Linked DNA regions of Homo sapiens: region 1 is linked to region 2. The links come from fine-mapping of genetic effects on gene expression. Tissue or cell type: whole blood. Region 2 holds a variant in brackets; the other region holds the start of a gene. All regions are shown on one strand. Distances are from middle to middle.

Region 1 (5,365 bases), 21 kb before region 2:
AATTCCCCCACCTCCTCACAGCTCACTTTCTTCATCTGTAAAGTGGCGGAGTTACTGGGAGGGTTCAGTGATCTAACTCTAATACATGAAAAGAGCCGCTTGGAACAGTGCCTGACCCACAGAAAGAAAGCAGTAAGTGCCCGCTCTTACTCCAGCTCCCCTGGGTATTGCGGTCTGATGTTATCACTATCTTGCCCAGTGTCCTGTTATGAGCTGCCCGGGGTCTCCGTCAGTGGGGGGTACAGTGTCCTCCCCCACTCTGGCCCCAGTCTCCCCATGAGTCAAATGAAAGTTAGAGCCCCAGGAAGGTGAGAACCCTGGTGGGTGCCCGTTATCTGTCACACAGTAAGGGCTCCAAAGTCACTCGTGGCAGAGGGGTGCCCAGACACGAGCTCACCTCTGGGGGCGCCTCGAAGTCTCTCCAAGCTACACAAGTTTTGTCCCAGTTTGGCAGGTGGCCACCCGAGAGATTCCTCCTGATTGGAGGATGTGCTCAGCCGGGTGCCTGGAGTTCATCAGAAGTTACTGGCCTCGGCCGGGCGCTGTGGCTCACGCCTGTAATCCTAGCACTTTGGGAGGCCGAGGCAGGTAGATCACCTGAGATCAGGAGTTCAAAACCAGCCTGGCCAACATGGAGAAACCCCGTCTCTACTAAAAATACAAAATTAGCTGGGTGTGGTGGTGCCTGCCTGTAATCCCAGCTACTTGGGAGGCTGAGGCAGGAGAATCAATTAAACCTGGGAGGCGGAGGTTGCAATGAGCTGAGATGGCGCCATTGTACTCCAGCCTGGGTAACAAGAGGAAAACTCTGTCTCAAAAAAAAAAAAAAAAAACAGTTACTGGCCTCTCCCTGGGTCTGTGAGCTGTGCCTTTGGGGGACAAATGACCTCCTGGCTAAAACTCGGGCCTTCCCTCTTCCCCACTCACATTCCTCCCAAATCCCTGCCACTCAGAAGCAGCTGGGCTCTTCACCACCTCCTAATTTGGGCCGCCTCAGGGAGAAGGTTGGAGTCCAAGGGCTGGGTATATCAGCACTGGGCACTTGTGGGCCTCACCCCTCTTGTCTGGGGGCACCCGTTCCTGGAGCTCCATCTTCCATCAGCTCTAACTCCTTCCCAAACACACATCCCCTCCGCCCCACTCCTTCCCTCCCACGGCCTCTGCCCACCCCCCCTCAGTTTCTGTCCTCACCTACCAAAGACCACTTCCTCACACAGGGCTGATGTATGTGTCTGAACAGCACTCCCACTGGGTCCCAGGGGAAGGGCTGGGACATGGGAGGGGCTGGCCGAGGCCCACACTGATTGTCATCCTACATCTCAGCCTCTGTGAGACACACGATGACCTCTGGGTGGCACCCCCCTTCCCTTGGTGGCCCAGGCCAGAACCGGGGCCCTAATCCTTACCCCTCTCCTCTCCCTCCACCCACACATCCTATCAGTCACCAGGTGCCACCAAAATCCCAGTCCCTAAGCAGTGGCCGGGTCAGTCCCCACCTCTCCAGCTCTGGCCACAGCCAGGGGCTTCCTTGCCCCTCCCCAGCCCAGAATGACCCATTTCACGAGCACACCCGACCACGGCTCGCGGAGACAACCACTCCAGGCTCCCATCTCCCACCCTCCAATGCCTTGGCTTGGCGTCCTGGTCTCCCTCAGCTGCCGGGTTCCCCATCCCCACCGCTTCCCGTTTTCTCTATGGTGAGGTTCATCTGACTGTTGGGGGATGGGGGTACCGGGCTGCACCCGGCTTTGCACAGGCAGCTCCCTCTCCTCGCCTTTAATTTGCAAACGCCTCCTTTAAGAAGGTTCCAGGATCGTCTTCTCTGGGAAGGCTTCCTGGCCCCCAGGCTGGGTTAGGGCACCCTCTTTGTGTTCCCACATTTGCATTTTCAGCCCCACTGGGCTGGGGCGTCCGGAGGGGAGCTAGGGCCCTCCAACACCTGGGCGCCCACCGAAGGTTTGTCGAATGAAAGAATGACAATCCAACCATGGAAAGCACAAAACTGGTCCCTGATGACTTCGCCACGACCTCAGCGGGGCGGGACGAGTTAGGGGCGGGACCACGCTTGACGGACAGGCCCGCAGCCCACTGCGAGAGGACTGGGGCGGGCCGCCCCGCCCACCGGCCGCTGGATAAGGCTGCGCGCGGGGCCGTGGGGCGCAGGCTGCTGGAGAAGGCGCACCTGCTGCAGGTGCTCCCGGCCGCCCCGGACCAGCGAGCGCGGGCACTGCGGCGGGGAGGATGCTGCGCGAGCGGACCGTGCGGCTGCAGTACGGGAGCCGCGTGGAGGCGGTGTACGTGCTGGGCACCTACCTCTGGACCGATGTCTACAGGTGAGCCGGCCCACCGTGATGCCCGGGCCGAGATCTCGAGCCCAGAAATCCTGAGACGCGCTCAGACTCGGGGACGTGGACAGCCTTTGTCCAGCCCGAGTTGTCCCTCATCCCGAGCCCCCGAGCCCAGAAATCCTAAGAATCTCATCCAGAAACCTGACAACCCCCGAACCTTGTGTCCACCTTCCAGAAACCCTGAGACTCTCCCAGACCCCCTAACACAGCCTCAGCCCCAGCTCCCTCACAGACCCTCCCTTTCACCCGTAACCCTCCGTCTGGCCCTCTCCAGTTCTCCTCCCGGGGGACCTCACACCCCTTCAGCTTCCCTGCCGTCCTCTCCCCTTTCACTTCCCCTCCGCACCTCACTTCCCCTCGGACCCACCTCAACCCAGCCCCTCTCCTGCTTCCCACTCCCAGTTCAGCGGAGCTTCCGCGGAGACTTGCCGGGGACTGGGGCAGGACCCGAAGGGAGCTGCCCTGAGGCTGAATCCGGCCCTGGAGGTTACTCAGGCTCCGATTTCGCCCTGTGGGGGCTGCTGGTGGTTGCTTGTCCCCAGGCACTGGCCCTGAGCTCCGTGTCCCCAGATACCTTCCCCTGACTTCATTCTGAGACCACAGAGGGACAATATTCTACCCAGCTGACGACGGGGACTTGGGGTGTATAGCGGGGTACTTTGTTGGAAAAGGATCCTGATTCAGAGTTCTGCTCCCTCCCCTTCTCTCTGTCCAAGAACTTGGTAGAGTGCGGGATGTCCGAGACAGCTGAAGGTAGGGTAGGGCCCTACCACTCCCCCCGCAATCCCAGAAAGCAGCCAAGTCCAATGATCTGTCTCCCTGAGTAATGGGACGGGGCCTTGGAAAGGTGTGGCTGGTGTGAATGAAAGGGTGGGGTTATGCTGGGGTTTGATCTGCCCCCTCTATTCCAAGCATTTAAAACCTCCCCATTGCTAGGGTTGGAGGGGTCAGTGCTGGGGGCAGGGAGCATGCAGGACTCTGAGGTGGGACCCTGTGCTGACACCGGATGAGTCCCCTATCCTCTCTGCCTCAAGCTGAACTCACACGGAGGCACCATCGTGGTTTATGGCTCTCAAATCATCCTGACACCTGGAGCACCCTGCCTCTCCCAGGCCCCCACCAACCCATCATGTGTCTCCCCACACAGCCCTGGCAGCCCTCCCACCTGCCCAACCAGTCTCCTGCCACCGCTGCAGAGGCACTGGCCACGCTGATACCAACAAGCCCCAGGACTAGGGACCCACTCCATGCCTCTGTCCCTGGCCTCAACCTCTGCCTTCCCCTGGGCCTGGGCTTCAGTTGTCCCCCATGTAAACCTCAGAGGTGGACTGGGTGGTCTCTGAGAACAAGAACACAGCAGTGGAGGGTGGTCCAGGCTCTGGTGGGGTGCAAGAGCTCCCCTGCCTTCCCCACCCCCAGCCCTGAACTGGGCACCGCTAGGGAGTGGGCGCGGAGCCAGAGTGCTCAGGTCTCTAAGCCTCAGCTGTCACCATACCCACCTGTTTATTTGCTGGGGCATGGTTGGTGCCGCCTGAAAAGCTGGCATGATCCTCCCAGTCGGGGGTGGGGAGCAAAGGAGGGTTCCTGCTCAGGCGCCCTGCTATCGCTCTATCCTGGCAAAGAGAGGCCCAGCTGGGGTAGGGGCACAGAGTGGGGCAGATATGGACTCAGCCTCCCTCTAGCAGGGGGCAGCAGTGTGACGATTCCCCTTGTCCTGTCTCAACGACCACAAAGACCCTAACCCCCACCGGCACTTAAGGTTCTCCACCACCACAGAGAGGGGCAGTGCGCTCTAGACCAGTACTGTCCAGAAAAGTCCAGTTTGAACCACAACAAAACCACAATTGCATTTTAAATCTTCTAGTAGTCCACACTTTTTTAAAGTTAAAACAACAGGCATAATTTTAATAATATATTTTGTTTAACCCAATATTTTAGAATATTATCATTTCAACATGCAATCAATATAAAAATTATTAAGGAAATGGTTTACCTTCCTTTTTTCATGCTAAGTCTTTGTAATCCAGTGCACATTTTACACTTCAGCACATCTCAGCGTAGATTGAGTGCATCTCAGGTGCTCACTGGCCACCGTGAGCCAGTGACACCGGGACAGAACAGGTCTAGTGCAGAGTTTCTCAATCTCGCACTATTGCATTTTGGGCTCGATATTTCTTTGTTGTAGCGGGATGTTTAGTGGCATCCCTGACCTCTGTCCCCTAGATGCCAGTAGCAACCCCCAAATTGTGACAACCAAAAATGTTGCCAGACAGTGCCAGCAGTCCCCTGGCAGGGGGCAAAATCACAGCCAGCTGAGACTCACTGGTCCAGTGGAAGGAAGCCTCTTCCAGGACTAAGGAGCTTGAGTTGTTACTGCTATTGTGACTCGAGTTACCTGTAGTAATGAGAGCAACTGCCAGTATTGATAACAGGAGGAGGTATTAGTGGGCACTTAGGAACTGAACCCACCACCTCCTTTCTTCCTCACCATAGACCCTGGAGGGTTCATTGATCATCCCATTTTACAGATGAGGAAGGTAAGGCTCAGAGAGATGAAGCCATTTGTCCAGAGTCACACAGGACTCAGGTCCAGGTCTGTTTGACTCAGAACTCATGCTCTTATACCCCACTCTGTCCTATGTGACCCTAAAACCAGCGGGTTGAACTGGACGGCCCTCTCAGCCTGTGTCTCTTCCACCCTGGCCACGAGCCCACTGTCCCCAGAGACTTCACCAACTCCCATTTGGCCCTCCACTCTTCCCTGAGTCCTTTGCTGCCCGGACACAGGTCCTGGCTCAAGACCCCAAGTGATGCCCCCAGAGCCTCCAAGTAGACCCCAAGGAACAAGGCCCGGGGGTGCTGGGCCCAGTTAATTACGGAGTGGCATCCTGACCCTCACTCCTTCTGAGTCGCAAAGGTGAGCGAAACGGCCTCAGCACCCACTCCCTTTCCCAAGGGCTCTGGACTCCCTTTCCTGTGATGCTGGCACACAGGATCCCCTCCAGACACATAGCAGG
Region 2 (5,365 bases):
GGCATAATCTCAGAATAAAAGACAGTCATGGCCGGGCACAGTGGCTCACGCCTGTAATCCCAGCACTTTGGGAGGCCGAGGTGGGCGGATCACCTGAGGTCAGGAGTTCAAGACCAGCCTGGCCAACATGGTGAAACCCTGTCTCTACTAAAAATATAAAAACTAGCCGGGCATGGTGGTGGACGCCTGTAATCCCAGCTACTCAGGAGGCTGAGGCAGGAGAATTGCTTGAAACCAGGAGACAGAGGTTGCAGTGAGCTGACACAGTGCCACTGCACTCCAGCCTCGGCGACAGAATGAGACTCTGTCTCAAAAATAACACAAAACAAAACAAAAAACAGAATAAGAGACAGTCATTCAATTGCAAAAAGAAACTAACACCATTGAACTTCTGTTTCCTGTTCCAACAGAGACCCTGGTGAAAATCTGGTTTCCCTTGGGGACCACTGTTCTCTCTGTCCCTTCTAGGTTTTCTCTTTTCTCGAGCATCTGCCCCAGGAGCCCTTGAGCCCGTCATCCTGAGTAATCAATCACTCAGGGGCAGCGCCTCAGAGGCAAGCCCCCCCCCAACCCCAATATCTTGAGAGGCTGGGACTGTCCCCTGGGCACAAAAATGTATCTGAATCTCTCTCACCCTGGTCCTATCCTGAGTCCACATTGAGCAGAAAGAGCCTTGGCTTCTGGGTAGACAGAAGTAAGCCTAAGATCTTTCTCTGTCCCCTCCAGCCAGCTTGTGACAAGTCACATCATCCCCCTGAGCCTTGGCTTCCTCATCTATAAAATGCGCTTCACAGAGCAGCCTTGCATGGTGTTTACAAGGATTCAGTGGGATGTTGTGTGCGAAGGGCCCGGCACAGAGTGGGTGCTTAGTCAATGCTCCGCCTGCTTTTCTCTCTTGCTCTTGAGGTGGCCGCATTTTCTCTCTGCCTGGGTGAAGTTAAAGAAATGTATGGTCTCTCCTTCTTCCTTCTGGGATTTGGGAGCAAATTCATGATTCCTTTGGCCAGATCAGGCTCTGGGTCTTTGTCCCAATCCCGCCAAGGACTTGCTGTGTGACCTTAACAAGTAACCACCCCCACTAGGACTCACTTTTTACAAACTATAAAATAAGGGGTTTGAGCTAATTAATCCCTAAGGACCTTCAAGACCCTGGTTAGGGTTGATTTGCAAAGACTTCCATTTTTTGGGAGGGATGGGGGAGAGCAAGAGGTGAGGTGTGGGGAGGGAGGAAGAATCCCACCCTATTTGAGGTCCTGGCAGTGGAAGGAGTACACATATGCGGGCCCCAGAAAATTTTAACATCAACCTAAGGGGCTTGATCCTATGCCTTCTCCCCAGAGGCTGGGATACTTGCCCTGATTGGCTGTGGGGGAGGGTGTCCTTCCTTCCCATAACATCTCAAGCTGCTTAGTAAGGCAAGAAGGCCAGGCACCCTGCCACTCTCTGGCGACCCTCCAAAATGCTTGTGCCTCTCGGTCAGAGCTGAGGCTTCAGTGTCTTCATTCTCAGGGCAGACTGCCTTGAACCCAATCCTAGGGACATTTCCCGTCAATCTGCCCCACACCCAGGAGCCACCTGACGCCTTGGGGCTATTCTGGGGAACTGAGGTGGGATCCAGAGCCTCTGGGAAATGTCGTCTGGAGCCTGGAGGCCCTGAAGCAGAGCTCCTCTCCCTCCTCCCCCTCGGGAAGGCAGAGCCATCCCAAGAGGCAATGCTCTGGGCAGGTCACACCAGCCCTGTTCTCTGCCCCTACCCGCAGCATCCCACTGGAATCTAGTTAAATCAGACATTGGGGGAAGCCTTGCAGGGGCGAAGTCCCATGGGCATGACTACAGGGTGGGCGGTCTCTGAGGGTGAAGGGGCCAGAAGGTCATTTCAGTGGATTATGGGGACAGGTCATGGGTCATCAGAGAGGAGTTATGAAGCCCTGTGAGAGGCTGGGAGGACGATAAGGGAGCCACACTGTGAAATGCCCACATTTCGTAACAGGAAGGTAACGAAACCTGTCTGAATTCAGTAAATCAGGAAATCGCAATAAGCATGAGAGAGGTTGCCTTAGGCAGCTGAGAAGAAGGGCTGGACAAGGAACTGCTGTCTTTCTTTAGAAACAGTGTGTTACTATTTTATTTGATTTTGTTTGTACTATGTCCAAATATTACATGAATAAAATGTTTCCATTTAAGAATTCATAATGAAATGAAGCAGTATAGACTGCACCATAATTTCTCTCCTAGCCCACGGCCCCACTGCTTTAATGGACTC[G/A]CCACAAGGAGTCCCAATGTAATGTCACCTTACGGCCTAGAGACGAAGGCCGCAGGGCTACCAAGGTGGGGAAATGGGCACTTCCTCTGGGAATGACCTTCAAGGGAGCAAGTCTTGTGTCTTTGACTTTGGGCTGGGCTTTTGGAAACAGCTTGCAGGGAGGTCAGCCTGGGTTCATTGCAGGGAACAGCAGAGAGCAGGCAGCCGGAGTCCGAGGCCCTGCTGAGAGCCTGGCTCTGCGTTCTGGGAACTTCGGTGGTCACTTCCCTGCTGCGGGCCTGGGTTTCCTCATCTGTATCGTTAGGGGGTGGGGGTGGTCACGCCTCCCCTGGAGTGGCCGAGAGAACACACCTTGGAAAACGCTGTGCAGCTGCAGAGCAGGATGCCCGCAGGGGAGAAATTTTTACCTTGAAAAGGACAGAGTGGCTCCCTAAAGAGGCTGGACCTGCGGCTCCTTCCGAGGGAGGAGTTTCAGGAAGCCAGCTCCCTGAAAGGCAGCATTCAGTGGACGTGACCGGCTGGAAAGTTCACAAAGGTCCAGGAACCAAAACCAGTATTATTCCTGCCCCTGCACCCCAGGCTCTTAGCCCCTGGTGGTACCGCCTTCCCTTCTTTCCCCTGGGGTCCTTATCCTGCACCAGCCTCCCAGATTACCAGCCCGATTTGCTGACAAGTGGCTTCTCTGAACCTGGGTTTGCTGCCCTGTGAAACGAGAGCAATGCTATTCATCTCATGGGACTGTGGACGCCTTGAGAGCAGGTGCTGTGCCTCCATTGCCCGTTGCCTGGTACAGCTCCCGGAGCAGTAGCTCCTCAGCAGTGAAATGTGGAGTGAATGCGATCGGAGGGAGGAGGTTACAAATTATGCCTTACAGCACCTAACTCACCGCACAGCTGCAGAGGCTGGGACACACAAGACTGCCTCTCTCAAGGGCCAGGCGCCCTTGCAGCCTCCTTCTAGACTGGAAAAGTCACATGCAGGTCTAGGGTATGCAGGCTATAGGCAAAGGGAGGACCTGAATGTGATCTCTGGACTCTGGGCTTGGTTGGCCCAGAGAAGGGTGACATCAGTGCACTTCGTGTGCCAGGACCCTCCTTTCCATGCCCTCCAGGCAGAGGGTGTGCCTGCCACGGGGACTAACCAGGAATGCATTCATTACCACCCAGCGCCCACCAGGTCCAAGTCATGCTCAGCGTGAGATGAGCCCACTCGGGCAGCTCTGGGGACCTGGAACGGGCACATGTCATGTGTGTGACACTCCCAACACCTTCCCAACCACATCCCTACTCGACCTCATCCGTCTCCAACTCAAGGCAATTTCGCCTCCCAAGGGACATTTGACAATATCTGGAGACATTTTTGGCTGTCACGACTGGGAGGGATGTTACTGGCATCTGGTAGGTAGAAGCCAGGAGTGCTGTTAAACATCCTACAATGCACAGGCTGCCCCCACACAAAGAGTTATTTGGCTCAAAAATGTCAGTAGTGCCTTCCATTGCAGCTAATGCATCTGCTGTAACCAGGAAGGGCCCCATGTTACAAGTGAGGAAACTGGGGCTCAGAGAGGTCCTCTAACCTGCCCAAAGTCACACAGCTTATAAGCAGAGAACCAGGGTCTAAACCCCACCTTGTCTGATACTAAACCTTTTCACTTCCCTACAGTCTCCACAAAGCCTGTCTCCATGGCAGGCCTAGGGATGCTGAGGGTCCCTTCACCAAGAGAAGGGATAAGTGGGGGCCTGGCCCTGGATCCTCCATCTAGACTCACAGGTGACCTCAGACCAAGAGGGGTTAGAGACAGCTTCCCACCCACAGTAAAACCCTCAGTCCTTGAAGGTGGGATCTAGCCCACTGGAAGTTCTGGGAGAGAAAGAGACACGCACACCCAGGTGCACATGTGCACACCTATGCGCATGCCCGGGTAGACTGAGAAAGGCAGTTTGGGAATGCTATCCCTGTTAAGTTTTCAGAATATGAACTATGAATCAGACCAACCGCACTGTGTACCCCAGTTCTGCTAGCGTCCCTATGTGATCTTGGGCATGCGACTTCACCTCTGAACTGAGGCATCCAGATCTGTGCAGCGAGGATCATTCCCCAACCCCCAGCCAGAACAATGAAGTGGTAGGAGGTCCCAGACCTCCCCGATGGCAGCTCTTGCAGCCGTAAGCTACGAGGTCCACACGGTGTCTGCTGACGGTCTCCAGTGGGTAGTGGGATGTTGAGGCAGGGGGTTGCATAAGATGACTTCAGCGAGGTCCTCTCTTTCCCGTGACCAAATGAATGGCTGAGACGCACCCAAATCCCACAGGTCTTCCTCTTGCCCCTGCCCTGCCCTGCCTGGCAGGCTCAGCAACTCACCCATGTCTCTTCTCCCCAGAGATCTCCCTGGATGTGGACGCAGACCGGGATGGTGTGGTGGAGAAGAACAACCCAAAGAAGGTACCTAGCTTTCAGGGCAGGCACCACCCTGAACCCAGGGCTTCCGAGGGCACAGCCCCAGATCCCGCAGGCAATTCCCATTTCACAGCTCAGGAGACTAAAGCCCAAGACAGGCTCCCAGACACACAGCATACCAATGATGGAACCCACAGAGGAGCTCAGGCATCTCCTAGAGACGGCAACAGAGCAGGCTCCTGAGTCTCAGTTTCTCCATCCCATGATGGGGACGCCCAATTCATGGAACTGCTGGGAAGGATAAATGTGCCCGCTACAGAGGAAGCACTGTGAAGGCATTTGCTCTTATTATTTTGCCTGTTCTTTTAAGACTAGGGAGGTGGGGGAGACAGACCCTCAGGACAGAGGGTCGCATTCATCATTCTCAGTTCCAGGCGTGGTATTATCTCTGCTGGTGCATGCACGGCCCCTCTCCTCTTTCTATTTATTCTTGCATTCATTCACCATTCATTCATTTGTTCCCTCGTTCATTTACTTATTTTCTTTTATCTTGCATTCCCCACTCCCATTCTGCTCCCCCACAGAGGACCATTTTGCTGGGTTTAATGTGTCTCTTTCTGCTCTGGTGACTCTCAGGAGGCATGTGGTGTGGTTGGTGTGCATGTATTTTTAATTTGTGCAGACGGCATGGTGTTCTCCATCACA

What was found. PIP is the estimated chance that this variant, and not a neighbour inherited with it, causes the effect.
Region 1: PADI2 starts here. The variant in region 2 is fine-mapped to the expression of PADI2 in whole blood (INTERVAL, PIP above 0.99).

What each region holds. Positions count from the first base shown.
Region 1 is chr1:17,116,248-17,121,612 of GRCh38, reverse strand. PADI2 (peptidyl arginine deiminase 2) reads left to right here and starts at 2,162. Exons shown (of 16, transcript NM_007365.3): 1 at 2,162-2,333. The coding sequence starts at 2,242. RefSeq lists an enhancer at 1,037-1,571 and a silencer at 2,143-2,352.
Region 2 is chr1:17,095,249-17,100,613 of GRCh38, reverse strand. PADI2 (peptidyl arginine deiminase 2) reads left to right here. Exons shown (of 16, transcript NM_007365.3): 4 at 4,644-4,705. Among named protein-coding and RNA genes, the nearest start is that of PADI2, 22 kb to the left of the region's middle. The variant G/A (reference allele first, on the strand shown) is at 2,264.